Homo sapiens: one gene and its partners. The protein of the gene in region 1 interacts with the protein of each later gene in a biochemical or structural test. Each region holds a gene or a part of one and is shown in the gene's direction. Other genes may lie near its edges.

Evidence for each region.
Region 2: of the proteins of GZMA (region 1) and HDC, one has a biochemical effect on the other in vitro, tested with the Homo sapiens proteins (one study listed by BioGRID).
Region 3: of the proteins of GZMA (region 1) and GOLGA2, one has a biochemical effect on the other in vitro, tested with the Homo sapiens proteins (one study listed by BioGRID).
Region 4: of the proteins of GZMA (region 1) and LMNA, one has a biochemical effect on the other in vitro, tested with the Homo sapiens proteins (one study listed by BioGRID).

The regions. Positions count from the first base shown.
Region 1 is NC_000005.10:55,098,560-55,105,679, forward strand, and holds the start of GZMA (granzyme A precursor), read left to right. Parts: upstream 1-4,086; 5' UTR 4,087-4,123; coding exon 4,124-4,193; intron 4,194-6,914; coding exon 6,915-7,059; intron 7,060-7,120. UniProt on the Homo sapiens protein: Abundant protease in the cytosolic granules of cytotoxic T-cells and NK-cells which activates caspase-independent pyroptosis when delivered into the target cell through the immunological synapse. It cleaves after Lys or Arg.
Region 2 is NC_000015.10:50,241,695-50,248,743, reverse strand, and holds the end of HDC (histidine decarboxylase), read left to right. Parts: intron 1-400; coding exon 401-499; intron 500-5,499; coding exon 5,500-5,601; intron 5,602-5,737; coding exon 5,738-6,484; 3' UTR 6,485-6,797; downstream 6,798-7,049. UniProt on the Homo sapiens protein: Catalyzes the biosynthesis of histamine from histidine.
Region 3 is NC_000009.12:128,259,008-128,266,007, reverse strand, and holds part of GOLGA2 (golgin subfamily A member 2), read left to right. Parts: coding exon 1-38; intron 39-126; coding exon 127-220; intron 221-316; coding exon 317-423; intron 424-2,915; coding exon 2,916-2,974; intron 2,975-3,303; coding exon 3,304-3,445; intron 3,446-4,250; coding exon 4,251-4,340; intron 4,341-4,446; coding exon 4,447-4,554; intron 4,555-4,748; coding exon 4,749-4,836; intron 4,837-5,205; coding exon 5,206-5,543; intron 5,544-5,818; coding exon 5,819-5,932; intron 5,933-6,616; coding exon 6,617-6,841; intron 6,842-6,925; coding exon 6,926-7,000. UniProt on the Homo sapiens protein: Peripheral membrane component of the cis-Golgi stack that acts as a membrane skeleton that maintains the structure of the Golgi apparatus, and as a vesicle thether that facilitates vesicle fusion to the Golgi membrane.
Region 4 is NC_000001.11:156,131,711-156,138,710, forward strand, and holds part of LMNA (lamin), read left to right. Parts: intron 1-2,692; coding exon 2,693-2,818; intron 2,819-3,094; coding exon 3,095-3,265; intron 3,266-3,476; coding exon 3,477-3,602; intron 3,603-4,150; coding exon of another isoform or gene 4,151-4,190; coding exon 4,191-4,411; intron 4,412-4,503; coding exon 4,504-4,726; intron 4,727-5,210; coding exon 5,211-5,318; intron 5,319-5,402; coding exon 5,403-5,522; intron 5,523-5,943; coding exon 5,944-6,033; coding exon of another isoform or gene 6,034-6,054; exon of another isoform or gene 6,055-6,156; intron 6,157-6,777; coding exon 6,778-7,000.

The DNA.
Region 1 (7,120 bases):
CAAAACCATGCCAAATTGTAAAGACCATCAATGCTAGGAAGAAACTGCATCAACTAACGAGCAAAATAACCAGCTAGCATCATAATGACAGGACCAAATTCACACATAACAATATTAATCTTAAGTGTAAATGGGCTAAATGCCCCAATTAAAAGACACAGACTGGCAAATGGGATAAAGAGTCAAGACCAATCAGTGTGCTGTATTCAGGAGACCAATCTCCATGCAAAGACACACATAGGCTCAAAATAAAGGGATGGAGGAAGATCTACCAAGCAAATGGAAAGCAAAAAAAGCAAGGGTTGCAATCCTAGTCTCTGATAAAACAGACTTTAAACCAACAAAGACCAAAAAAGACAAGGCCATTACATAATGGTAAAGGGATCAATGCAACAAGGAGAGCTAACAATCCTAAATATATATGCACACAATTCAGGAGGACCCAGATTCATAAAGCAAGTCCTTGAAGACCTACAAAGAGATTTAGACTCCCACACAATAATAATGGAAGACTTTAACACCCCACTATCAATATTAGACAGATCAACGAGACAGAAGGTTAACAAGGATATCCAGGACTTGAACTCAGTTCTGCACCAAGCAGATCTAATAGACATCTACAAAACTCTCCATCACAAATCAATAGAATATACATTCTTCTCAGCAACACATCGCACTTAATCTAAAATTGACCACATAATTTGAAGTAAAGCACTCCTCAGCAAATATAAAAGAACAGAAATCACAACAAACTGTCTCTCAGACCACAGTGCAACCAAATTAGAACTCAGGATTAAGAAACTCACTGAAAACCACACAACTACATGGAAACTGAACAACCTGCTCCTGAATGACTACTGGGTAAATAACAAAATGAAGTCAGAAATAAAGATGTTCTCTGAAACCAATGAGAACAAAGACACAACATACCAGAATCTCTGGGACACATTTAAAGGAGTGTGTAGAGAGAAATGTATAGCACTAAATGCCCACAAGAGAAAGCAGAAAAGATCTAAAATCAACACCCTAACATCACAATGCTAAAAACTAGAGAAGCAAGAGCAAACAAATTCAAAAGCTAGCAGAAGGCAAGAAATAATTAAGATCAGAGCAGAACTGAAGGAGCTAGAGACACAAAAAACCCTTCAAAACATCAATGAATCCAGGAGGTGGTTTTTTGAAAAGATCAACAAAAATGACAGACTACTAGCAAGACTAATAAAGAAAAAAAGAGAAGAATCAAATAAATGCAATAAAAAATGAAAAAGGGGATATCACCACCGATCCCACAGAAATACAAACTACCATCAGAGAATACTATAAACACCTCTATGCAAATAAACTAGAAAATCTAGAAGAAATGGATAAACTCCTGGACACATCCACCCTCCCAAGACTAAACCAGGAAGAAGTTGAATCTCTGAATAGATCAATAACAGGTTCTGAAATTGAGGTAATAATTAATAGCCTACCGACCAAAAAAAGTCCAGAACCAGATGGATTCACAGCCAAATTCTACCATATGTATAAAGAGGAGCTGGTATCATTCCCTCTGAAACTATTCCAATCACTAGAAAAAGAGGGAATCCTCCCTAGCTCATTTTATGAGGCCAGCATCATCCTGATACCAAAGCCTGGCAGAGACACAACAAAAAAAGAGAATTTTAGACCAATATCCCTGATGAACATCGATGCGAAAATCCTCAATACAATACTGGCAAACCAAATCGAGCAGTACATCAAAAAGCTTATTCGCCATGATCAAGTTGGCTTCATCCCTGGGATGCAAGGCTGGTTCAACATATGCAAATCAATAAACATAATCCATCACATAAACAGAACCAACAACAAAAACCACATGATTATCTCAATACATGCAGAAAGGGCCTTCAACAAAATTCAACAACCTTCATGCCAAAAACTCTCAATAAACTAGGTATTGATGGGACGTATCTCAAAATAATAAGAGCTATTTATGACAAACCCACAGCCAATATCATACTGAATGGACAGAAACTGGAAGCATTCCCTTTGAAAACTGGCACAAGACAAGGATGCCCTCTTTCACCACTCTTATTCAACATAGTGTTGGAAGTTCTGGCTACAGCAATCAGGCAAGAAACAGAAATAAAGTGTATTCAACTAGGAAAACAGGGAGTCAAATTGTCTCTGTTTGCAGATGACATGATTGTATATCTAGAAAACCCCATCATCTCAGCCCAAAATCTCCTTAAGCTGATGAGCAACTTCAGCAAAGTCTCAGGATACAAAATCAATGTGCAAAAATCACAAGCATTCCTATACACCAATAACAGACAAACAGAGAGCCAAATCATGAGTGAACTCCCATTCACAATTGCTTCAAAGAGAATAAAATACCTAGGAATCCAACTTACAAGGGATGTGAAGGACCTCTTCAATGAGAGCTACAAACCACTGCTCAACGAAATAAAAGAAGACACAAACAAATGGAAAAACATTCCATGCTCATGGATAGGAAGAATCAATATCATGACAATGGCCATACTGCCCAAAGTTATTTATGGATTCAATGCCATCCCCATCAAGCTTCCAATGACTTTCTTCACAGAATTGGAAAAAACTACTTTAAAGTTCATATGGAACCAAACAAGAGCCCACATTGCCAAGACAATCCTAAGCCAAAAGAACAAAGCTGGAAGCATCATGCTACCTGACTTCAAACTATACTACAAGGCTACAGTAACCAAAACAGCATGGTACTGGTAATGGCTGCACAACTATGCAAATATACTAAAATCCATTGACTCATACACTCTAAATGGGTGACCTTTATGGTGTGTGAATTATGTCTCATAAAGTTGTTAGAAGTCAACATAAATGGAAGAGCAACCATTCACATAAAAATAAACAAAATTGTCAATGTTTTAAGAATTTTTCAGTAGGTGTAGTTAATTACAATTTGACTTTTTTAAGTCTGCACTAAAATTACTCACCAAAACCAATAGCAGGGTCCTCACTGCTGTTACTGAAAATGATTAACCTTTGATACACTTGTAATATCTGAGAAAAAGAAATGCAGGGGTCTCAGCAGGGCTCCCTTCTAAGGTCACTTGATTTCTAAAGAAGTAACCACTAGGTTTGAAGTCATCAGGATGTTAACTATGGGGATGGTTGGTTCAGTACCCAACATCCTGACAGCACATCTGACCATGTATATTGTATCGGAGACCACATCCTCAGCTCAGAAAAAGAGCTGAACTCATTTCAAATAGAAAGCACACTGCATACTGTTCCTCCAGGGACTGAGGTTGACTCTTCTTAGAGTGAGACATTCCCCAACATTGGAACAAAAATGACTCCCACTTCTTTTCTCACCTAAACCTGTTCAGAAGAAAGTAAGGAAGAAAGGCAGGAAGCAGGGGTCGGGGGGGGGCGGGGAGGGAGGGAAACTCGGAGATACTTTCAGTATCTAAAGTTGTGAAACTAGACAATCAGGAACGCACAATCAGAGGGCTGAAAAGGGCCAAGAGCCCCTACCCTCCTCCAGCCCATGTTCCCACACCTGCCACAGACCAGGCAGGAGCACAATAAACACTCACCACAAAGTGGGGAAGGAAAATCCAGGCAGGAGCCTCTATGTAAATAAATCTCCCTCCTGTCCTCAGCTTGCACTTGGCCTGCTAATTCTTATATAACCCAAGGAGACAGCTAGAAAGAATTTTGATTGGTGACCAATTTTGAGGACTTTTATTAAAATTCTAATTTAAGTCTTCGAGAGTTTCCAGTCATGGATACTACAGATAATATTGCAGATGATGAAAGCGTCTTCAAAATCATAGCTGAGACACTTTACAGTCTTCCCTGGTGTACTCTGATGGCAACAAGGTCCCTTGCCCCTCTCCTACCCTGTAGAATTCCAGCGCCCCCCTCAGCAGTCCTAGCAAAGGAAAGCCTGCCTGCTGGCAGTGAGCCATCATCCACCATTCTCACTTATTTGGATTTGGTTTCCTAATGCTAAACTTTGAAACTTGAAAAAAAAAATGAAAGGAAACCACATCCTTTTTACTCTCAGTATATAGATAGAGGCAGTTAAGAACTGAAAACAGATTTTCAGGTTGATTGATGTGGGACAGCAGCCACAATGAGGAACTCCTATAGATTTCTGGCATCCTCTCTCTCAGTTGTCGTTTCTCTCCTGCTAATTCCTGAAGGTAAGACTGATTCTTCTCATTTCCATTATGACCATGAAGCAAAATGGAGCAGACTTTCAATGAACTTTTGGCAATATTACCTTCCTATACTGAAAGAAGATGTTTTCCCCCAAGCCTTATAATGTTTAGCCAGGCACAATGGCACATGCCTGTAGTCCCAGCTACTAGGAACGCTGAGGTGGAAGGATCACTTGAGCGCAGGAGTTTGAGTCCAGGCTGGGCGACATAGTGAGACCCTGTCTCTATTTTTTTTTTTTAAATAGCATTCTTTCTTGGATTTTAAATATGTCTGTATTTTAGAAAAAAAAATCTTTTCTTCTCATAATTATTTTGCAAAAGATAGCAGAACCACCAATGCTTATTGCTGCCAATTTGTAACTTGAAAATTGCCAAAAAGGACAATGTAAAAATGAGTTAACAAAACTCTCTTGTTCGTAAAACAAATAGTACCTTCCAGGAAAGGAATAGTGGCAACTTAGTCAGCTCAGCCTTTCCTGCTGCAGAAAATGCATAGATAAAGACAATTAAGACAAATCTGACCTAGACACCAAAAGTGAATCAGGAATTATTAGAATTTTTATACTTATTTCTCTGGTCTAGAGACTCTTTGGCAATAAATTAAGGCGTGAGGCCAGTTCCCTCATTAACCCTTTGGGTGTGCTATAGTATTTTTTATTAAGCTAATTTTTTGTCTACCAAATGGTAACCAATATTTCTGCTTTTGTGTGAGTTGAGCATGCATGGGTTAAAATGCTGTATAATTCATGGTATTACCACTGAAAGGGTGACAGCTCTTGGGGAGCTCTAGATTTCCCTTGAAGAACCTGCTAGGAAGTGAGGACTACTCTCAAGCTGTGGCAATATGGAGCCAGCCACGGTTTTTCCCAGGATTCATCAGCTTTTGGAGGCAGGGACTTATGTAATAACCTGCCTTGCCAGGAATTCCCAAAGAACTCTGGTTTATCATATTTAGGTGCATATCTGGTTTATGCACCTAAATATGAGAAGACTTTGGGAGGCTGAGGTGGGTGTTTCACAAGGTCAAGAGATGGAGACCATCTTGGCCAACATGGTGAAACCTTGTCTCCACTAAAAAAACAAAAATTAGCTGGGTATGGTGGCACGTGCCTGTAATCCCAGCTACGCAGGAGGCTGAGGCAGGAGAATCGCTTGAACCAGAGAGTTGGAGGCTGCAGTGAGCTAAGATCGTGCCACTGCACTCCAGCCTGGTGACAGAGCGAGACTCTGTCTCAAAAAAAAAACAAAAAAGAGAGAGAGAGAGAAGAAATATAAAAATAACAAGGCTGCAGGACATTTGGGACAAAGGTTGGCTATGTTATAAGCAGGGCATAGTATGACTATATTCAGGCATGTTAAATCCTCCATAACAGAAAAACACAGGGCAGATAAATCCAGCCATATCTTTTCTTCAAAGGAAAACAACAAAAGCAACCTGCTGTGCTCCTCTTTGTTTCCTGTGTTCAGAGAGGGCAGTGTGGGCCCATATAAGGAACAGACAGCAAAGCAAGGCACAGTTGAAATCTATCTGTACATGAATCACCCTAGGAAAATTGGGATTGGGTGAAGGTCTTTTGTTTCTATAAGCTCTTTACCCTTTTGTTTCTAGAGCCTAGAATTTCTTCCTCCCAGTTTCCTTTTTAAAAGCAGAGACCTCTGCTTTTTCAAATCACACTAGCCACATTTCATGTGGTCACTCTCCTCCTTGCTCTTACCCTCATCAAATCTTACGAAAGGCTTCTATAGCTGTCATTAATACTTGCCTGTGAATTTGGCAATGACTTAGTCCTAATTATGGAACAAGAGGCACTGTGCCCTATTCAAGAAACCATGAGTCTCAGCAAAACTATTTTGGGAGAATCCAAGAACATCTGGTGCAGGAGGTGGAGCACTCGGAGTGTATCACTAAGACATAAGGTTCTCTCTATCTGCATGTATGGTTTGCCTTGTGTTTAGTTCTCACTGTTCCTTAACAATGGGTCTCTACTTCAAGACTATCATCAAGGAAATGTCACTTAGGCAGAATTCTTGGCATATGGTATCTTCTCTCTTCTCTTCCCTATCTCATTGGAAAAGACCTTAGATTAAACCCCATGGTTTGGTCTAGAGATTGAAGGGGAGGTGCAATCGATGTTATTTTCTTAACTTATGAGTGAGAACAGTGCAGTTTAATAACCAAAAGTCTCATAATGACCAAAGGACTGAGGGGTAGGGTCACAGCTAAACGATGCTAATATCGGTTCATAAGCTATATTTTTGCAATGGCTTGGGGTTAAAAGGGAAGTTATGAGGCTTCTAAAAGTCTTATCTATTTCCCCCAAATTAATAGTTAGCCAAAAAGGGTGGGAGCACTTGAGGTTGTCACTACCACTGGCATTTCCTGCAGCAACTGTTGATGGTAAAGACCAAGGCAGAGCTTTCTGCCCTGGGGCCTGAGGTTGCTGGTTTGTGACATCCAGCCTAATGATCCTGGAACAGTCAATGGCCTCGCTTCTGTGGGTGGAAAAACAGGACCCTAGAGTCCAACAGGAATAGGATTTGCATCAGATGTCTGCGGGTCTACATAGAGTAAAAGCAGGGGAAATGCTCTCATCCAGACTTCCTCTCTGAGTGCAAAAAGCATGGCTGGTCTTAGAAACATGACTTTGTGTAGAGCTCTTTGGGGGTGAGCACCAATCTGATTTGTCTTTTTCCATTGAACAGATGTCTGTGAAAAAATTATTGGAGGAAATGAAGTAACTCCTCATTCAAGACCCTACATGGTCCTACTTAGTCTTGACAGAAAAACCATCTGTGCTGGGGCTTTGATTGCAAAAGACTGGGTGTTGACTGCAGCTCACTGTAACTTGTAAGTGCCTGGGTTTTTAAAAAAAAGTTTGTAAAGATACTCTAATTTGGGGAAACATTAA
Region 2 (7,049 bases), on another chromosome or scaffold:
GAGGAATAAAAATAGAACTTTATTTTCTGCTATTCAAGGAATAAAGATTCATTTAGAGTAAAAATGTATTTCCCTTATGTTGAGTTTCTGGGCCGGGATGAAATGTTTAAAGCAGCACTTGAAAGCAAAGTGCCCTTCTCATTGGTTCAGGGTAATGGACTTGACTTCCACTTGTCTGGCTCTCAGACAAGTGACTATTGGCCACCTTCATCAGTGATTTGGTCACACGATGGGGCAACCCTTGGGGAGCTTGGCTTACTCCTTAGCAACAGCTCCCAGAGTCATGGTGACATCGTCCATCCCTGGAGGGCTGGGCAGGCAACAGATAATGCCCAGAAATGCCCGAGGGAGTGGGGCACCCTTGTCTCTAACCTTGGGCACTGTGTTCCTTTGTTTCTAGCACTGGCAGATCCCCCTGAGCCGACGGTTTCGCTCTGTTAAACTCTGGTTCGTGATTCGGTCCTTCGGGGTGAAGAATCTTCAAGCACATGTCAGACATGTATGTAGCATGCTGCTGTGGGGGCTGAGCCTGTGTTCCTCTGTTTTCTCATGGCGAGGAAGGCTGGTTTCTACTTTGCAGATCTGCCTAGGAGACTTGCGGTGTGTGGTTCAGGTGTCTGGGCCTGTTCCTCAGCTCCTGGGACTTGATTCTCTTTGTTAACCAGAGGAGCGCTGAGCACAACATGCCCTGAGGGCTGCCTGATGCCTGTCCTCTGCTGAGTGTCTCACCGTTCCCCTTGCTGTCACTGAGCACTGGGGAGGGTTGGCCCCAGAGTCTGGTTTGCAGGAAAGAGAAAGAGAAAGTAAATCAAGGGGAAGTGTGTGTGGCCAGGGTAGGATCCTATCTGCTTTGGAATTACCTCAATGGTCACAGCTGGCTGAATATTTTAGCACTATTATGATTATGCCTGAAATAAAGCTCCCCTGGCTTGGACAGGTAGACCTACCAAGTCTGGAACAAACCTCCCTGCATCAACAGGCATTTATTGAAGGCCTATTTTGCTTAATTTATTTCTATTCAATTCAACAATTACAAGGTATTGTGCTAAGAAAGGGACACAGAGGTAAATGAGACAGGTGCAGCCTCTCTCCCATGTTCTTCATGGAAGAAGCGGGACTTAACTAAGAACTCTGGCCACTGGCATTGTTCTCCCACTTCTACAAGAGTCCACATGCAAGACAAAGCCATTGATAAAAGTAGTGGGGGAAGCTGAAGACACTGTCCTTTCTGCCTATGTGTGTCTTTGTCCTTCCACCTTTCCTCTAGGGAATTCCTTCTTGGTTAAACAAACACAAACCAAAATGAAGTGGTGGAAGCGGTAACTATGATTTTTTTTAACATTTAAAAAAAATAATTATTATGCTTACATAATAATTACGTATATATTTATGGGGTATGTGTGAGGTTTTGATACAGGCATACAATGTGCAATGATCAAATTAGGGTAACTGGGTATCCACCACTCAACCATTTATCATTTCTTTGTGTTAGAAACATTCTAGTTCCATTCTTTAAGTTAGTTTGAAATGTACAGCAAATTATAGTTAACTATAGTTGCCTTATTGTGCCGCCTAACATTAGATCTATTTAATTGTATTTTTGCGCCCGTTAACTATCACCTCTTTATCCCCCATTCCCTGCTACCCTTCCCAGCCTCTGCCAACCATCATTCTACTGTGCGTCTCCACGAGCTCAGTTTGCTTACTTTTTAACTCCCACGTTTGAGTGAGAACATGTGAAATTTGTCCTTCTGTGCCTGGCTTATTTTGCTTAACATAATGTTCTCCAGTTTCCTATGACTGGTTTTAATGTTGGTAATTTTACCTTTGTAATCACCACTGGTTGTTTACCAATGAGCAGCTGCCACCAACAATATTGAGGAACTTTAGGCACTTTGTGCTGTTTCTAGAAATGCAGACTCAAGACTGGAGGGTTGTGGGCGGGGAATGGTTGGTGGAGGTTACAAGTAATTAGGAACATTTTTTTGCTTACAGTTTGGGACTGGATATTCAATGTGCAGATCCTGACTAACCTCCCTTAGCACTTCTGTTTGCAAATCAAACCCCTGAATTCCTCCTATTAGCAACCCCATTGCCTACCATATGAGGCCCACACTCCTGGGCCTGGCTTTCAAGGACTTGACGATTAGCTCCTACCTTAGCTTGGGCATTTCATCGACCCATCCAGACCTCATGCTCAGTCCATCTCTGCACCTTCACCCGTGTCCTTCACCTGAACTACCCTCTCCTCTCCAAATGTTGTGAATGGATTAAATTCTGCTTCCACTAGAAGCTTTTCTGCCTATTCCATCTGTTCTGGTTTCTGCTTCATTAGCATTCCTGTGATCACCTACTCAAACACCTTTACAAAACTGTGCTCAAAGTTCTTCCAATGTCCCACAATAGAAGAAATGGAATTAAAATAAAGTTGTTTGATATGATTTGATTTTATCTCTTCAACTTGACGGTGATGATAATTATTGACACTTGCGTAATGCCTTCAATACAAAAATAAATTCTAGTTCTTCATTAGATCCTTAGCACAGTGCCTGGGGTGGTCACTCTAACCTGGCAAGGCTCAGAGGGAGTAATTGCCCTGCTTGAGGGAAGAAGGCCCGGGACTTTCCCTGAAGCCTCCCAATTCCAAATCCTTTCTTCATAGTTCTGGGCTGCTTTCTACTACACTGAGCTCTTGGAAAGTTATATAAAATTAAATTTCATATTTCTGTGTTACAGAGAAGTGCTTTAAAGAATGGATTTTTAGTTCTACCCTTTACTGTTTGATGACCTTAGACAAATTACTTAACCTTTCTATATTTGTCTGCCTTATTTATTTATTGTTATTTATTTTTGAGATGAGGTCTCTGTTGCTCAGGCTGAAGTGCGGTAGTGCCATCAGAGCTCACTGCAGCCTTGACCTCCCCAGGCTCAGGTGATCCTCCCACCTCAGCCTCCTGAGTAGCTGGGACTACAGGCGCATACCATCATGCCTGGCTACTTTTTGTATTTTTTGTAGAGATGGGGTTTTGTCATGTTGCCCAGGTTGTTCTCACGCTCCTGGGCTCAAGCAATCTGCCTACCTTGGCCTCCCAAAGTGCGAGGATTACAGGCATGAGCCACCACCCCTGGCCATGCCTTCCTAATTTATAAAAATGAGAAAAGGATACTACCTCTCTCAAATTAAATGAGATAATATATATGCAGCCCTTAGCACAGGGTCTACCTACTACTCAGTTAAGTACTCAATGAGTACCTCTTCCTCTTCTCTTCTTCCCCTTCTTCATCATCTCCTTCTTCATCTAATTATAATAAATTGTCATCATCATCACCATCATCATCATCATCATCCTCATCTCCTATCACCTACAATAGGGATTGGTAAACATTTCCTGTAAAAAGCCAGATACTAAATACTTTTGGCTTTGTGGGCCATACTCTATTGTAATTACCTCTGTACTACAAGAGCTACCGTAGACAATATGTAAACAAATGGGAATGCTGTGTTCCAAAAAACTTTACAAACACAGGTGGGGGCTATATTTGGCCATGGCTGCACTGTGCCTGCCCTTGACCTAGAGCGGTGCAGGGCACTGGCAGCAGCTCTGCTTTCATGACCTGTAAAGTGGGGCTTTGGAGGTGGCAGTGCTGCCTGTGCTCTGTATTCTCCTCTCCCCTGACCTCTGCTTCTGTTATTGCAAACAGCATGTGTTGTAGGAGGGATAAAAGCACAGTGGGAGGAGATCTACCTACTGTCACTTGTACCTTGGGAAAGTCACTTTCCCTTGGTTCCTTCTAAAAAATGGAAAGATTGAGCTGGGCACAGGGGCACGTGTCTGTAGTCCCAGCTACTTGGGAGGCTGAGGTGGGAAGCTCAATTGCTCCCACCATAGCCCAGGTGGGAGTTCTGGGCTATGGTGTGCTATGCCAATTGAGTGTCCGCACTAAGTTCGGCATCAATATGGTGACCTCCCAGGAGCAAGGGATCACCAGGTTGCCTAAGGAGGGGTGAAGGGGCCCAGGTTAGAAATGGAGCAGGTCAAAACTCCTGTGCTGTTTGAAACTGACCACGCAGGGGAGAAAGGGGCTCTGAGAAAGATTTGGAGAAACTCATTTCATTATGGTCAAAAGACAGGCTCAGGGCCAGACATGGTGGCTCATGCCAGTAATCCCAGTACTTTGGGAGGCCTAGGAAGGAGGATCGCTTAAGCCCAGGAGTTTGATACCAGGGTGAACAACCTAGTGAGACCACTGTCTTTACAAAAAAATTAAAAAATGTAGCTGGGCATGGTGGTGCATGTCTGTAGTCCTAGCTACTCAGGAGGTGAAGGTGGGAGGATTACTTGAGCTCAGGAGTTCAAGGCTGCAGTGAGCTTTGATTGTGCAACATGCCTCTGTACTCTAGCCTGTGTGACAAAGCAAGACCCTATCTCTCAAAAAAAAAAAAAAAAAAAAAAAAAAGAGGTTCAGCTAACTCCCTTGCCCTCTCTTGAAATAGAGCAGTAAGTATGAGAACTAACTGATAGAATTACTTAGCAAATATTTTATTGAGATCTTCTGGATGCTTGGAGAAATTTTTAAAAAGAAAAGAGAAGGCAAGTCCTGTCCTTGTTTAGTTAGTAATCCTGGGTTAAAAACAAAAAGCAAAAAACCCCAGGACATTTAAAAAGATGGTATGAACTTCAGTGGAAGATTAATATAATACAAAGCCTTTAACATTTTAAAATTGTAACAAAATATTCATACCATAGAATGTACCATTTTACTCATTTTTAAGTGTACAATTCAGTGGCATTAAGAATACTCACAATGTGGTGTGACCATCACCATTATTTCCAGAATTTTTTCATCATCCCGAGCAGAAACTCTGTATCCATTAACCAGGTCCAAAACCTTTCCATGATGGGTGGAGACAAGATGTGAAAATATGTTCTCTATGGAATGTCAGAAACAGGGGATGAAAAGGGCATTTGGGGTACAGGGTGAGAAGAGGTTTGAGAGGCAAGTGAAGCATGTAGGCTTAGGATGGGGCAGGGCCGCCACTAGCCCATATGGCAACTTGATGTGCACTACAAACAGGCATCTCTTCCTTTAGGCACACGCAGCTCGCATGAGGCACCTGGCTGGGAACGCAGAGCATGGACTGGGTTTTGGCCCTCACTTGCCCACTTGGCCAGTCAAGGAGCTGTGAAATCAGGAGTTGAGGCCGGGTTGCCTGGACTGCAAAGCACATGCCTTCTGGGTTCTGGGGCTGAGTTGAAAGAGGGCCCTGAGATGAGTTCTCGAGGTGGATCCCATGTGACAGGAAACAGGGCGCCATTGGAAATTTTCCAGCTTGGAATATGAGCAAAATCAAATGGAGATGACAATGAGGCAGAAGCCGCTTACAACGGCTGTGACGGGAAGATGGCCCTGGTTTAAAACCATTTAGCAGTCTGAAAGTTTATGCATAGTCTCTTGTCTGATGATTAATCTCAGTTCTCTTTATACTTGCAATTCCAGGGTACTGAAATGGCTAAATATTTTGAATCTCTGGTCAGAAACGACCCTTCCTTTGAAATTCCTGCCAAGAGGCACCTTGGCCTGGTGGTTTTTCGTCTAAAGGTAATACCATCTTCCAAGCCCCTCTGTGAATGATGTCTTGTGGTGCTCCAGAGCCTCTCGGAAACACAAATGCTGGGCTCTGGGGATGCTGACAGGGGGTGCGATGGAGACTTCACTTCCTTTATTTTTCAAACAGGGTCCTAATTGTCTCACAGAAAATGTGTTAAAGGAAATAGCTAAAGCTGGCCGTCTCTTCCTCATCCCGGCCACTATCCAGGACAAGTTAATCATCCGTTTCACTGTGACATCCCAGTTTACCACTAGGGATGACATCCTGAGAGACTGGAATCTCATTCGAGATGCTGCCACTCTCATCCTGAGTCAGCACTGTACTTCCCAACCCAGCCCTCGGGTTGGGAACCTCATCTCCCAAATCAGGGGTGCCAGAGCCTGGGCCTGTGGAACGTCCCTTCAGTCTGTCAGTGGGGCAGGAGATGATCCAGTCCAGGCCAGGAAGATCATCAAGCAGCCTCAGCGTGTGGGAGCCGGTCCCATGAAAAGGGAAAATGGCCTCCATCTTGAAACCCTGCTGGACCCAGTTGATGACTGCTTTTCAGAAGAGGCCCCAGATGCCACCAAGCACAAGCTGTCCTCCTTCCTGTTCAGTTACTTGTCTGTGCAGACTAAGAAGAAGACGGTGCGCTCCCTCAGTTGCAACAGTGTGCCAGTGAGTGCTCAGAAGCCACTGCCCACAGAGGCCTCTGTGAAGAATGGGGGCTCCTCCAGGGTCAGAATCTTTTCCAGGTTTCCAGAAGACATGATGATGCTGAAGAAAAGTGCCTTCAAAAAACTCATCAAATTCTACAGCGTCCCCAGCTTTCCTGAATGCAGCTCTCAATGTGGACTCCAGCTGCCCTGTTGCCCTCTGCAGGCCATGGTTTAGACACAGGGCCTTCAGCCAGAGTCTGAGGATATACTTCAGGGACTCTGTGAACCCCTCACAATTGTATGCCAACTTTGTGTGCTTATGTGTACATGCATTTTTCTTGGGGCGAGTTCATAATTTTAATCAAATTCTCATAGGGGTTCATGACCCACAATAGGATACAAACGAAGAGTTTAAGCCAGCATGATCCAGATGGGTTCAGCAGTCTGGTCAGTGAGAAAGGGCCGAGGGTAGACAGGCAGCTTCTGTGGTTCAGCTTGTGACATGATATATAACACAGAAATAAATTATGCTTGTCCCTGAAACAAAACATACCCTGTGTCACTTAATTGGCTGCTGAAACATTGATTAACCAGTCTGGGAGCTTAAACATATGTACTTTTTTTGAAGCATCAATTATGAGTCAGGCACTGTGGCTCATGGTTCATAAATGAGGAAACCAACGTTTAGGTCACACAGCTTTAAATAGGCAAACCCAGGTCTCCTGGCTTCCAGTGAAGCCCAGGCTGTTTCCACCATGCAGTACTGCTCAAGGTTGGACCTGAACAGGAGCTCACAGCCC
Region 3 (7,000 bases), on another chromosome or scaffold:
GCCACCAAAAGCAGGGAGCCCTAAGGGAGCAGTTACAGGTGAGTGGAGGGTGTGAAGTTCCGTCCTGTCCTCTGGAGAATGTTTCTTTCCTTCTTTTTCAGCACTTGCTTGGGTTTCCTCCCAAAGGTTCACATTCAGACCATAGGGATCCTCGTATCAGAGAAAGCTGAGTTACAGACAGCCCTGGCTCACACTCAGCATGCTGCCAGGCAGAAAGAAGGTGGGAATCTGGGCACCCCATCATCCTTCAACCTGGCACTTTGACAGGCCTTTAGGGGGAGTCCTTTGGGCCCCATCTCAACCTCTCTCATTCCAGGAGAGTCTGAAGATCTGGCCAGCCGCCTGCAGTATTCCCGGCGGCGTGTGGGAGAGTTGGAGCGGGCTCTCTCTGCTGTCTCCACGCAGCAGAAGAAGGCAGACAGGGTGAGTCCAACTGCCTGCCCCGTCCCCTGGCATACTGGCTTCCCAGATGGAGGAGTGAGCCTAAAGGTCCCTTCTGCAGGGTTGACTGTCCTGCCTAGAAGGCAGCATGGGCCATTTATCACTGCTTTTGTGTGTGGTTGCTAGAGGCATCCTGGGGCTGAGTCAGCTGCTGTGGGTGAGTTTGGGGGCACTGTGGGGAGTGAACACTGGACGCAGAGCTCGGAGGCCAAGTGCCCGCTGTGCCGTTACCTGGCTGTGGCCTTGGTCAAGTCCTAGGTGGGGGAATATGGTACTTGTACTGTGAAGGTACAGAAGAGTATCTTTAGTATGTTACCATTTGTGTAGAGAGAGGGAACGTGTGTGTGTATGTGTACCTATGTACTATGACAATATACATAAAACGTGTCTGCATGGATTCATAACAAACTCAGGAGAGAGGAACAGCACGGCTGGAAGATATTTCCCTTCTGCCCTTTCGGAGTTTTGGACTATCTGAATATATCATCCTTTCAAAAACTGAACAAAAGATAATTTCCCCCTTCCTATTTGTGCCCCCACCCTCGGGGAACAAATGAGCTTAGAGAGTCAGATATACCTGGGTGTTCAAATCCGAGCTCTGTCTAAGTGATCTTAGGCAAGCACTTAACCTCTAATATTCCGTGTTGTCCATCTACAAAATAGAGGTAATAATAGTAACTGTCTCATGTGGTGGTTATGAGGATTAAATGGGATTGTTAGCATGGTGCCTGGTGAAGCATTCAATAAAGGTTCAAACAGTGGTAGTAATAATGATAATAACAATAGCAATATTATCTGATCTCTCTGGGCCTCTGTTAGCCAGCTGTAAATTCGATCTTGGCCAGGTGTGGTGGCTCATGCCTGTAATCCCAGCACTTTGGGAGGCCGAGGCAGGTGGGTCAACTGAGGTCAGGAGTTCGAGACCAGCCTGACCAACATAGCAAAACCCTGTGTCTACTAAAAATGCAAAAAATTAGCCAGGTGTGGTGGCGTGCCCCTGTAATTGCAGCTACTTGGGAGGCTGAGGCAGGAGAATTGCTTGAACCCGGGGGCGGAAGTTGCGGTGAGCTGAGATCGTGCCACTGCCCTCCAGCCTGGGTGACAGAGGGAGACTCTGTCTGAAAATAAATAAATAAATAAATAAATAAATAAATAATAACAAAAATTAGCCAGGCATGATGGCGCATGCCTGTAATCCTAGGTACTCAGGAGCCTGAGGCAGGAGAATCACATGAACCCGGGAGGCAGAGGTTGCAGTGAGCCAAGATGGCGCCACTGCACTCCAGCCTGGGTGACAGATGGAGACTCCATCTCAAATAAATACATATATACATACATACGTACATACATAAATTCGCTCTCTCTCCCTGTTCCTTCCACCCTTACCAAGTCCTTTTTTTTTGAGACGGAGTCTCACTCTGTTGCCCAGGCTGGAGTGCAGTGGCACCATCTCGGCTCACTGCAAGCTCTGTCTCCCGGGTTCATGCCATTCTCCTGCCTCAGCCTCCCGAGTAGCTGGGACTACAGGCACCTGCCACCACGCCTGGCTAATTTTTTGTATTTTTTTTTTTTTTAGTAGAGATGGGGTTTCACCGTGTTAGCCAGGATGGTCTCGATCCCCTGATCTCGTAATCCGTCCCCCTCGGCCTCCCAAAGTGCCAGGATTACAGGCGTGAGCCACCGCACCCGGCCACCCTTACCAAGTTTTTTTAAAAACAAATGAGACCAGCCGGGTGCCGTAATCCCAACACTTTGGGAAGTTGAGGCGGGCGGATCACTTGAGGTCAGGAGTCAAGACCAGCCTGGCCAACATGTTGAAACCCCCTCTCTATTAAAAATAAAAAAATTAGGCCAGGCATGGTGGCTCACGCCTGTAATCCCAGCACTTTGGGAGGCTGAGACGGGCGGATCACAAGGTCAGGAGATCGAGACCATCCTTGCTAACACAGTGAAACCTCGTCTCTACTAAAAATACAAAAAAATTAGCCGGGTGTGGTGGCGGGGGCCTGTAGTCCCAGCTACTTAGGAGGCTGAAGCAGGAGAATGGCATGAACCCGGGAGGCGGAGCTTGCAGTGAGCCGAAATTGCGCCACTGCACTCCAGCCTGGGCAACAGAGACTCCATCTCAGAAAAAACAAAACAAAACAAATTAGCCGGACATGGTGGTGCACGCCTATAGTCCCAGCTACTCAGGAGGCTGAGGCAGGAGAGTCACTTGGACCAGGGAGGCAGAGGTTGTGAGCTGAGATCTCACCACTGCACTTCAGCCTGGGTGACAGAGGGAGACTCTGTCTCAAAAACAACAACAGCAACAACAAAATGAGACCATGGGCTTGGAAATGCCTTGAAAACATGTCAAGTGTGATTGAGAGTGAGGAAGTGTTACTGTGGAGTACTTACTGTAGCTGTTGTTACTGGTTGGCCAGCTGCTCCTCTGCCTGCTATATCCTGACTTAACCTTTCTGTATTTACAGTACAACAAGGAGTTAACCAAAGAGAGAGACGCCCTCAGGCTGGAGTTATACAAGAACACGTAGGATGGGGGATGGTGGGATGGGAGGTCTGGGGGCCCTCAGCATGGGTGGTGTGCTGGGAGGTGGGGGGTACAGGTAAGCATGATGAGGTAGTCATAGAGGTGTGCATGTGTGCCCAGCAAAGCTCTAGTGCCAGCTGTGCCACTGACTCATGGTGTAGCCTTGGGTAACTCGTATCTTTTCTCTGGCCTGTACATGTGACTTTTGATTCCTGGGGTTCCTTCCAGTGCCACAGTTCTGTGGTTGTGGGGCAAGGGTAGAGGGTGGATCACCAAAGCAGTCCTTTCTGTTCTTCGTTCATTCCTTTCTCTACTGCCTCTGGCCATAGCCAAAGCAATGAGGACCTGAAGCAAGAGAAATCAGAATTGGAAGAGAAGCTTCGGGTCCTAGTGACTGAGAAGGCTGGCATGCAGCTTAACTTGGAAGAATTGCAAAAGAAGTTAGAGATGACGGAACTCCTGCTTCAACAGGCAAGAGGCTGCAGCCCCATGGGTGGTGGGAGCGCCATCCAGCTGGGGCCATGGTCTAGGGATCATGCAGGGCATGGGGAGACTCCAGCCAAGAGCTGGAAAATTTGGGTCCTTGTTCCGGTCCTGGCATAAAATCCTCTAGAGAGTGCTAAAAATCTACAAATTGGGGACCTGGGGAATCAGAATCTTAGGGTTAGGGCTTAAGACAATTTTTGTTTTGTTTTGTTTTGTTTTGTTTTAAAGCATCATGGGTGAAAACCATTATTTTAGAGATTACATTTATATGGCTAGCTCATGAGTCTGTTTATTTCCTTCTGAGGTTCAAGCCAACACTTTCACTAATAATAGAGAGTAGAGATCTTTTTTTTTTTTTTTTTAGACGGGGTCTCGCTCTATCACCCAGGCTGGAGTGATACTTACTGCAACCTCTACTTCCCAGGCTCAAGCCATCCTCCTGCCTCAGCTTCTCAAGTAGTTGGGACTACAGGCGCACACTACCATGCCTGGCTAATTTTTGTATTTGTAGATACGGGGCTTTGCCATGTTGCCGAGGTTGGTCTTGAACTCCTGAGCTCAAGCAATCCACCCACCTCAGCCTCCCAAAGTGTTGAGATTACAGGCATCAGCCACCATGCCTGGCCTGAGATCTTTTTAAAATTATTTTTTATTTCTAAAGCAAAGAAACTTGACAGCAGAGTTGTATTGACTGAGTTGCACATTGAGCCTAGCCCTAGCCCTTTTAAGGGGCACTATTTGGAACGGCCTGGGCTCCCCAGATCTAAACTTCTCGCTCTTCACCATCCAGTTTTCAAGCCGGTGTGAAGCCCCTGATGCTAACCAGCAGTTACAGCAGGCCATGGAGGAGCGGGCACAGCTGGAAGCACACCTGGGGCAGGTGAGGCTTTGCAGGGGAGGGATGTAGAAGGAAGATGACCCCAGGTGGCCAGGAGTAGGTGACAACCAGTGACAGTCCTTCCTCATTTCTGTGGCCATTCTTGCAGGTAATGGAGTCGGTTAGACAACTACAAATGGAGAGAGATAAATATGCGGAGAATCTCAAAGGAGAGAGCGCCATGTGGCGGCAGAGGATGCAGCAGATGTCAGAGCAGGTGAGACCTGACCCTTCAGCTCCCCCTCAACCTTAGATAGGTCACTTGATCTTTCTGGGCATCTGCGAAATGGGAGGAGCACAGCCAGAGGTGGTCATGGGTCTGGGCTTTGTGGCGGTGGGGGCAGAGGGAGATGGTAGCCTGTCCAGCCACCAGCCCCTCTCCAGGGCCCTTTCTTGCTGTGCTTTGGGCAGGTGCACACATTGAGAGAGGAGAAGGAATGTAGCATGAGTCGGGTACAGGAGCTGGAGACGAGCTTGGCTGAACTGAGGAACCAGATGGGTAAGCTGGGGCTGGGGTGACCTGGGAGCAGGAATGGTGTCAGAGGGTTGTGGGGGTGGTTTAGAATGCCCCAGGGAGTTGGGTGGATGGAATGGCTTTGAGGCAGAGGGAAAGAGGTCTGTGCCAGGAGATGGCAAGTCTCGTCATCTCCATGAGCCTCAGTGCCCCATCAGCAAAGACGAAGGAGTGCCCGTTGTCAGCCACCCACAGTTGTCGCTATCGGAAAGTGGTTTGGAAGATTGGCTAACATCCGGGTGCGAGGAATCATCAGCAGGGAGGCCAAGTTTGGGGAGCTTGAGAGGAGGTATGGACCAAGAGGAGGGTTTTTTTGAGAATCCAGAGGCTTTTATTGTCTGCGTCCTTTCTCAGCTGAACCCCCGCCCCCAGAGCCCCCAGCAGGGCCCTCCGAGGTGGAGCAGCAGCTACAAGCGGAGGCTGAGCACCTGCGGAAGGAGCTGGAGGGTCTGGCAGGACAGCTTCAAGCCCAGGTGCAAGACAATGAGGGCTTGAGTCGCCTGAACCGGGAGCAGGAGGAGAGGCTGCTGGAGCTGGAGCGGGCGGCCGAGCTCTGGGGGGAGCAGGCGGAGGCGCGCAGGCAAATCCTGGAGACCATGCAGAACGACCGCACTACCATCAGCCGCGCACTCTCCCAGAACCGGGAGCTCAAGGAGCAGCTGGCTGAGCTGCAGAGCGGATTTGTAAAGCTGGTGCGCTGCCCCACCTGGAGAGCCCGCCCTCCTCCCTAGCCCTCCAGACCTTTGTTTTCCCACCTGTAAAGTGGGGCAGTGTAGCCCTCACTTGAAATGGTACTTCTGGAGGCATCTGTGAGCCAGAGCCCTGCTCCGATGGCTGTGGGGGAGAGGGGATGATTTTTCTAACCTGCCTCCACCCTTCCCGGTGCCATGGGAGGCAGACACCAAGGCAGCAAGTTCTGGGGTCTCCAGCTGCAGTGGGTGGCCGCTGATTGCTTCTCTCTGTCCAGACTAATGAGAACATGGAGATCACCAGCGCACTGCAGTCGGAGCAGCACGTCAAGAGGGAGCTGGGAAAGAAGCTGGGCGAGCTGCAGGAGAAGCTGAGCGAGCTGAAGGAAACGGTAACCCCGCCCCATCCAAGAAGGGCTGGGAGGCGGGCACCAGCCTCTGGGGAGGGGTGGTGTGAGGCCAGAGGCAGCTCCAGCCTGGGGCACAGGTGACCCCAGCACCCTCCAGGGCAGTCCTGTGACTGTTTCTTGCTCCCTGCCCTCTGACTTTTAGAGGTGGATAGCTTTGGGCTCCTCTCAGGTCTGGACATCATCGTCCCAGCTAGAGGCATGGATTTCTCCCAATCACAGGGGAAGAGACAGCGGCATAAGAGGCTCCTTAGATTCAAACTGGATTCTGGCCTTTGCTCCACTGGTCATCATTCAACTACTTTGCATCTCTAAGCCCCAGTTTCTTTAACTTAAAAAGGAAGTTAGCATCTTCCTTGCAGAGGTGCTGAGGATTCAATGAGATAATACGTGGAAAGCATTAGGCATGTAGCACACTTAGCAGATGGTGGTTGGCTCCCTCTGCGTTTCCACCAGTCTGTGGCCTACGGTTTAAATGGTGGGAAGAAGGATGTGAAATTTGAGGCTGGGGAAGGAGGCACGAGGCTCTAGACAAGGGAGGCAGTCACTTAGGCCTGGAGCAAGGGGCCAGAGGTCTGGGCAGGTGACAGAGCCCTCGCTACCCTATTTATGGGCCCTGAATCTGGAAGCAGGCCACCACCTGCCCTCACGCCCAGGGTCTTCCTACAGGTGGAGCTGAAGAGCCAAGAGGCTCAAAGTCTGCAGCAGCAGCGAGACCAGTACCTGGGACACCTGCAGCAGTATGTGGCCGCCTATCAGCAGCTGACCTCTGAGAAGGAGGTGCTGCATAATCAGCTACTGCTGCAGACCCAGCTCGTGGACCAGCTGCAGCAGCAGGAAGCTCAGGGCAAAGCGGTGGCCGAGATGGCCCGCCAAGAGTTGCAGGAAACCCAGGTGAGGGAGTTGGTGAGGGCAGGGCCCCGAGGGGGACAACCTGGCAACCTCCATGCCTTCTCACTCTCTTTTCTGGCCCCTTAGGAGCGCCTGGAAGCTGCCACCCAGCAGAATCAGCAGCTACGGGCCCAGTTGAGCCTCATGGCTCACCCTGGGGAA
Region 4 (7,000 bases), on another chromosome or scaffold:
AGGCCCTTGTGATTTCTCTGGGGAAAAGGAGGACTGGAGTTGATCATTTATTGAGGCCATCAGAAGCGGATGGCTAATTACATATGGGACATGTGTTAATAATGCTTTGTGTATATAGAGTGGCCTTTACTTTCAAAACACTCTTCTCCAATTTATCATGTTAAAAGCTAGGAATTGGGCTGGGTGCAGTGGCTCACGCCTATAATCCCAGCACTTTGGGAGGCCAAGGCGGGTGGATCATTTGAGGTCAGGAGTTTGAGACCAGTCTGACCAACATGGTTAAACTCCGTCTCTACTAAAAATACAAAATTAGCCAGGCGTGGTGGCACACACCTGTAGTCCCAACAACTACTTGTGAGGCTGAGGCAGGAAAATCATTTGAACCCAGGATCAGAGGTTGTGGTGAACTGAGATTGCACCATTGCACTCCAGCCTGGGCAACAAGAGCAAAACTCTATCTCAAAAAAAATAAAAAATAGCCAGGCACGGTGGCTCATGCCTGTAATCCTAGCACTTTGGGAGGCAGAGGTGGGCAGATCACCTGAGGTTAGGAGTTCGAGACTAGCCTGGCCAACATGGTGAAACCCCATCTCTACTACAAATACAAAAATTAGCTAGGCATGGTGGCAGCCACCTGTAATCCCAGCTACTTGGGAGGCTGAGGCAGGAGAATCGCTTGAACCCGGGAGGTGGAGGTTGCAGTGAGCCAAGATCGGGTCACAGCACTCCAGCCTAGGCAACAGAGCGAGACTCCATCTCAAAAAAACATAAATAAATAAAAATAAAAATAAATAATAAATAAAAGCTAAGAATCAAAGAAGCAGTTTATTCCTAATTTCACAGTCTCATCTGTTCATAGTGGGGCCAGGATTAGAGTCAGTGGCCAAGCTTCCATCCTGGGTTCTTTCCCTTCCCAGGCCCTACCATCATAGTATACCAGGGAAAGACCTGGAGAAGCCAGCAGGTTGACCACCGAACCAAGGCTGGGCCACCTTCCTCCTGGGTCTGGTCTCCAGCCTCCCAGTTGTACCCTTCCCCCAGCCCTTCCTGGATGCACTGATCAGCCTGTGCTTCCTTGCCCTGTTTTTCTTTATAAATAGAGCCATGTTCTCCTCTCTCTCTCTCTCTTTTTTTTTTTTTTTTTTTTGAGATGGAGTCTTACTCTGTCACCCAGGCTGGAGTGCAATGGCACGATCTCAGCTCACTGCAACCTCTGTCTCCCAGGTTCAAGCAATTCTCCTGCCTCAGCCTCCCGAGTAGCTGGGATTACAGGTGCCCACCACCATGCCCAGCTACTTTTTGGATTTTTAGTAGAGACAGGGTTTCACCATGTTGGTCAGGCTGGTCTTGAACTCCTGACCTTAGGTGTTCTGCCCGCCTCAGCCTCCCAAAGTGCTGGGATTACAGGCGTGAGCCACCACGCCTGGCAAGACGTGTTCTCTCTATGTTGTTGAGGCTGGTCTTGAACTCCTGGCTGCAAGAGATCTTCCTGCCTCAGCCTCCCAATGTGCTGGGATTATAGGCATGAGCCACCACACTTAGCCCAGCCTGTGCTTTCTTAAATGAAAATCTAAGCATACGGCTGGGTGTGGTGGCTCACGCCTGTAATCCCAGCATTTTGGGAGGCCAAGGTGGGCAGATCACGAGGTCAGGAGATCGAGACTATCCTGGCCAACATGGTGAAACCCTGTCTCTACTAAAGATACAAAAATTAGCTGGGTGTGGTGGCCCATGTCTGTAGTCCCAGCTACTCGGGAGACTGAGGCAGGAGAATGGCATGAACCTGGGAGGCAGAGCTTGCAGTGAGCTGAGATCGCGCCACTGCTCTCCAGCCTAGGTGACAGAGCGAGACTCCATCTCAAAAAAAAAATAAAAATAAAAAAAAGAAAATCTAAGCGTGGTGCTCCCCTGCTCAAACATCCTCAGGTTCTTTTCATGGCAGATAAGGGCATCTCTTCATGAGCCAGCCCCTGCCTACTGACCCAGCCACCTCTCCCATCCCTTCCCACCCCGTACTTCAGGCTTCAGCAGTACTGATCTTTCCAAAGACCCCAGAACACACATGCCTTCATACCTCTGTGCCTGTACATGCTTGTTTCTGCCCTTGAAATCATGACAGTAGCTCTCTGTAGGCCCCGCTAGCCTGTCCCTTGGGTCTTAGCCTCTTGGAGGCCTTCCCAGAGCCCCCCAAAAGTACCCCAGGCATACTTTGGTTCCTTCTCTCATGTCCCCTCAGTACTTTGCACATACCTCCTTTATAGCAGTTGCTATGTTGTGCCAGAGAAGGGAGTCCTGTGGCTGGGGGGCATATATCTTTTCTTTTTGAGACAGAGTCTAGCTGTGTCACCCAGGCTGGAGTGCAGTAGTGCGATCTCGGCTCACTGCAACCTCCACCTCCTGGATTCAAGCGATTCTTGTGCCTCAGCCTCCTGAGTAGCTGGGACTACAGGCGTGTGCCACCATCATGCCTGGCTACTTTTTTGTATTAGATATATATTTTCTCTCTTAGCACAGTACCTACCAAGAGTGAGTGAGTAGATGTCCTGACCCCTGCAGGCATCCAAGGCCCTCCTTCCCTGGACCTGTTTCCACATGTGTGAAGGGGTGCACAGGCAGCAGCCCACCTCTCAGCTTCCTTCCAGTTCTTGTGTTCTGTGACCCCTTTTCCTCATCTCTGCCTGCTTCCTCACAGCTTGAGGCAGCCCTAGGTGAGGCCAAGAAGCAACTTCAGGATGAGATGCTGCGGCGGGTGGATGCTGAGAACAGGCTGCAGACCATGAAGGAGGAACTGGACTTCCAGAAGAACATCTACAGTGAGGTGGGGACTGTGCTTTGCAAGCCAGAGGGCTGGGGCTGGGTGATGACAGACTTGGGCTGGGCTAGGGGGGACCAGCTGTGTGCAGAGCTCGCCTTCCTGAGTCCCTTGCCCTAGTGGACAGGGAGTTGGGGGTGGCCAGCACTCAGCTCCCAGGTTAAAGTGGGGCTGGTAGTGGCTCATGGAGTAGGGCTGGGCAGGGAGCCCCGCCCCTGGGTCTTGGCCTCCCAGGAACTAATTCTGATTTTGGTTTCTGTGTCCTTCCTCCAACCCTTCCAGGAGCTGCGTGAGACCAAGCGCCGTCATGAGACCCGACTGGTGGAGATTGACAATGGGAAGCAGCGTGAGTTTGAGAGCCGGCTGGCGGATGCGCTGCAGGAACTGCGGGCCCAGCATGAGGACCAGGTGGAGCAGTATAAGAAGGAGCTGGAGAAGACTTATTCTGCCAAGGTGCTTGCTCTCGATTGGTTCCCTCACTGCCTCTGCCCTTGGCAGCCCTACCCTTACCCACGCTGGGCTATGCCTTCTGGGGATCAGGCAGATGGTGGCAGGGAGCTCAGGGTGGCCCAGGACCTGGGGCTGTAGCAGTGATGCCCAACTCAGGCCTGTGCCTCCACCCCTCCCAGTCACCACAGTCCTAACCCTTTGTCCTCCCCTCCAGCTGGACAATGCCAGGCAGTCTGCTGAGAGGAACAGCAACCTGGTGGGGGCTGCCCACGAGGAGCTGCAGCAGTCGCGCATCCGCATCGACAGCCTCTCTGCCCAGCTCAGCCAGCTCCAGAAGCAGGTGATACCCCACCTCACCCCTCTCTCCAGGGGCCTAGAGTCTGGGCCGGATGCAGGCTGGAAGCCCAGGGTTGGGGGTGGGGGTGGGGGTGGGAGGTTCCTGAGGAGGAGAGGGATGAAAAGTGTCCCCACAACCACAGAGAAGGGTCGCAGGATGTGGAGTCAGATGGCCTGTGTGCTGTTTCTGTACACTCTTACCTCACCTTCACTTCTCAGGGCTTTGGTTTTCCCATTCGAAAATGGAGGCTGTTCTTAATCTCCCTAACTCAGAGTTGCCACAGGACTCTGCAATGTGAGGTGTTAAAAGCATCAGTATTTTTCTAGTTGGCTGTGCTATTTGTGACAGGAGAAAAAGTCTAGCCTCAGAACGAGAGGTTTCAGTTAGACAAGGGGAAGGACTTCCCAGTTGCCAGCCAAGACTATGTTTAGAGCTTGTGATGTTCAGAGCTGGCTCTGATGAGGGCTCTGGGGAAGCTCTGATTGCAGATCCTGGAGAGAGTAGCCAGGTGTCTCCTACACCGACCCACGTCCCTCCTTCCCCATACTTAGGGCCCTTGGGAGCTCACCAAACCCTCCCACCCCCCTTCAGCTGGCAGCCAAGGAGGCGAAGCTTCGAGACCTGGAGGACTCACTGGCCCGTGAGCGGGACACCAGCCGGCGGCTGCTGGCGGAAAAGGAGCGGGAGATGGCCGAGATGCGGGCAAGGATGCAGCAGCAGCTGGACGAGTACCAGGAGCTTCTGGACATCAAGCTGGCCCTGGACATGGAGATCCACGCCTACCGCAAGCTCTTGGAGGGCGAGGAGGAGAGGTGGGCTGGGGAGACGTCGGGGAGGTGCTGGCAGTGTCCTCTGGCCGGCAACTGGCCTTGACTAGACCCCCACTTGGTCTCCCTCTCCCCAGGCTACGCCTGTCCCCCAGCCCTACCTCGCAGCGCAGCCGTGGCCGTGCTTCCTCTCACTCATCCCAGACACAGGGTGGGGGCAGCGTCACCAAAAAGCGCAAACTGGAGTCCACTGAGAGCCGCAGCAGCTTCTCACAGCACGCACGCACTAGCGGGCGCGTGGCCGTGGAGGAGGTGGATGAGGAGGGCAAGTTTGTCCGGCTGCGCAACAAGTCCAATGAGGTAGGCTCCTGCTCAGGGTCTAAGGGGATACAGCTGCATCAGGGAGAGAGTGGCAAGACAGAAGGATGGCATGTGGAGAGAGGAACATCCTTGCCCTCAGAGGGTGGACCAGGGTGAGCCTGTATATCTCCTCCACACTCTGGTTCCAGGCCTGGCTCCTGGACTCTTTGGCTGTGAGACCTTGAGCAGGTTATTTAACCTCTCAGAGCATCAGTTTCCTCATCTGTAAAATGGGGATGAATACTGATCCCTAAGTCTTTGAGTTGTCAGGAAGATGAAAGATAAGGTATCCGTGTGCCTGGTGCTGCGTATGTGTCCACAGATCATGGCTATTATCCCCGGGGGAAGGGCAGTGACAGGGGTGTGTGTAGATGGAAGGAGAGGCCTCAATTGCAGGCAGGCAGAGGGCTGGGCCTTTGAGCAAGATACACCCAAGAGCCTGGGTGAGCCTCCCCGACCTTCCTCTTCCCTATCTTCCCGGCAGGACCAGTCCATGGGCAATTGGCAGATCAAGCGCCAGAATGGAGATGATCCCTTGCTGACTTACCGGTTCCCACCAAAGTTCACCCTGAAGGCTGGGCAGGTGGTGACGGTGAGTGGCAGGGCGCTTGGGACTCTGGGGAGGCCTTGGGTGGCGATGGGAGCGCTGGGGTAAGTGTCCTTTTCTCCTCTCCAGATCTGGGCTGCAGGAGCTGGGGCCACCCACAGCCCCCCTACCGACCTGGTGTGGAAGGCACAGAACACCTGGGGCTGCGGGAACAGCCTGCGTACGGCTCTCATCAACTCCACTGGGGAAGTAAGTAGGCCTGGGCCTGGCTGCTTGCTGGACGAGGCTCCCCCTGATGGCCAACATCGGAGCCAGCTGCCCCCAACCCAAGTTTGCCAATTCAGGGCCCCTTTCTAGAGCTCTCTGTTGCAGGCTCCAGACTTCTCCACCCAGTAGGCAAACCAAAAGATGCTTCCTCAACAGCACAAGGGGTGGAAGTTAGACAGTGAGGATTGTTAAAGGCAGAGCCATACTCCTACCCGGAGAGCTTGACAGTGTCCCTCTGGGGTGGAAATGAGTTCCTTAGCTCCATCACCACAGAGGACAGAGTAAGCAGCAGGCCGGACAAAGGGCAGGCCACAAGAAAAGTTGCAGGTGGTCACTGGGGTAGACATGCTGTACAACCCTTCCCTGGCCCTGACCCTTGGACCTGGTTCCATGTCCCCACCAGGAAGTGGCCATGCGCAAGCTGGTGCGCTCAGTGACTGTGGTTGAGGACGACGAGGATGAGGATGGAGATGACCTGCTCCATCACCACCACGTGAGTGGTAGCCGCCGCTGAGGCCGAGCCTGCACTGGGGCCACCCAGCCAGGCCTGGGGGCAGCCTCTCCCCAGCCTCCCCGTGCCAAAAATCTTTTCATTAAAGAATGTTTTGGAACTTTACTCGCTGGCCTGGCCTTTCTTCTCTCTCCTCCCTATACCTTGAACAGGGAACCCAGGTGTCTGGGTGCCCTACTCTGGTAAGGAAGGGAGTGGGAACTTTCTGATGCCATGGAATATTCCTGTGGGAGCAGTGGACAAGGGTCTGGATTTGTCTTCTGGGAAAGGGAGGGGAGGACAGACGTGGGGCATGCCCGCCCTGCCTCTCTCCCCCATTCTTGTTGCATGCATATCCTCTCATTTCCCTCATTTTTCCTGCAAGAATGTTCTCTCTCATTCCTGACCGCCCCTCCACTCCAATTAATAGTGCATGCCTGCTGCCCTACAAGCTTGCTCCCGTTCTCTCTTCTTTTCCTCTTAAGCTCAGAGTAGCTAGAACAGAGTCAGAGTCACTGCTCTGGTTCTCTGTCCCCAAGTCTTCCTGAGCCTTCTCCCCTTTTATGTCTTCCCTCTCCTCCTCCGGGCCCCTAGCCTCCCAAACCCCCATTGCCCGCTGGCTCCTTGGGCACAGAACCACACCTTCCTGCCTGGCGGCTGGGAGCCTGCAGGAGCCTGGAGCCTGGTTGGGCCTGAGTGGTCAGTCCCAGACTCGCCGTCCCGCCTGAGCCTTGTCTCCCTTCCCAGGGCTCCCACTGCAGCAGCTCGGGGGACCCCGCTGAGTACAACCTGCGCTCGCGCACCGTGCTGTGCGGGACCTGCGGGCAGCCTGCCGACAAGGCATCTGCCAGCGGCTCAGGAGCCCAGGTGGGCGGACCCATCTCCTCTGGCTCTTCTGCCTCCAGTGTCACGGTCACTCGCAGCTACCGCAGTGTGGGGGGCAGTGGGGGTGGCAGCTTCGGGGACAATC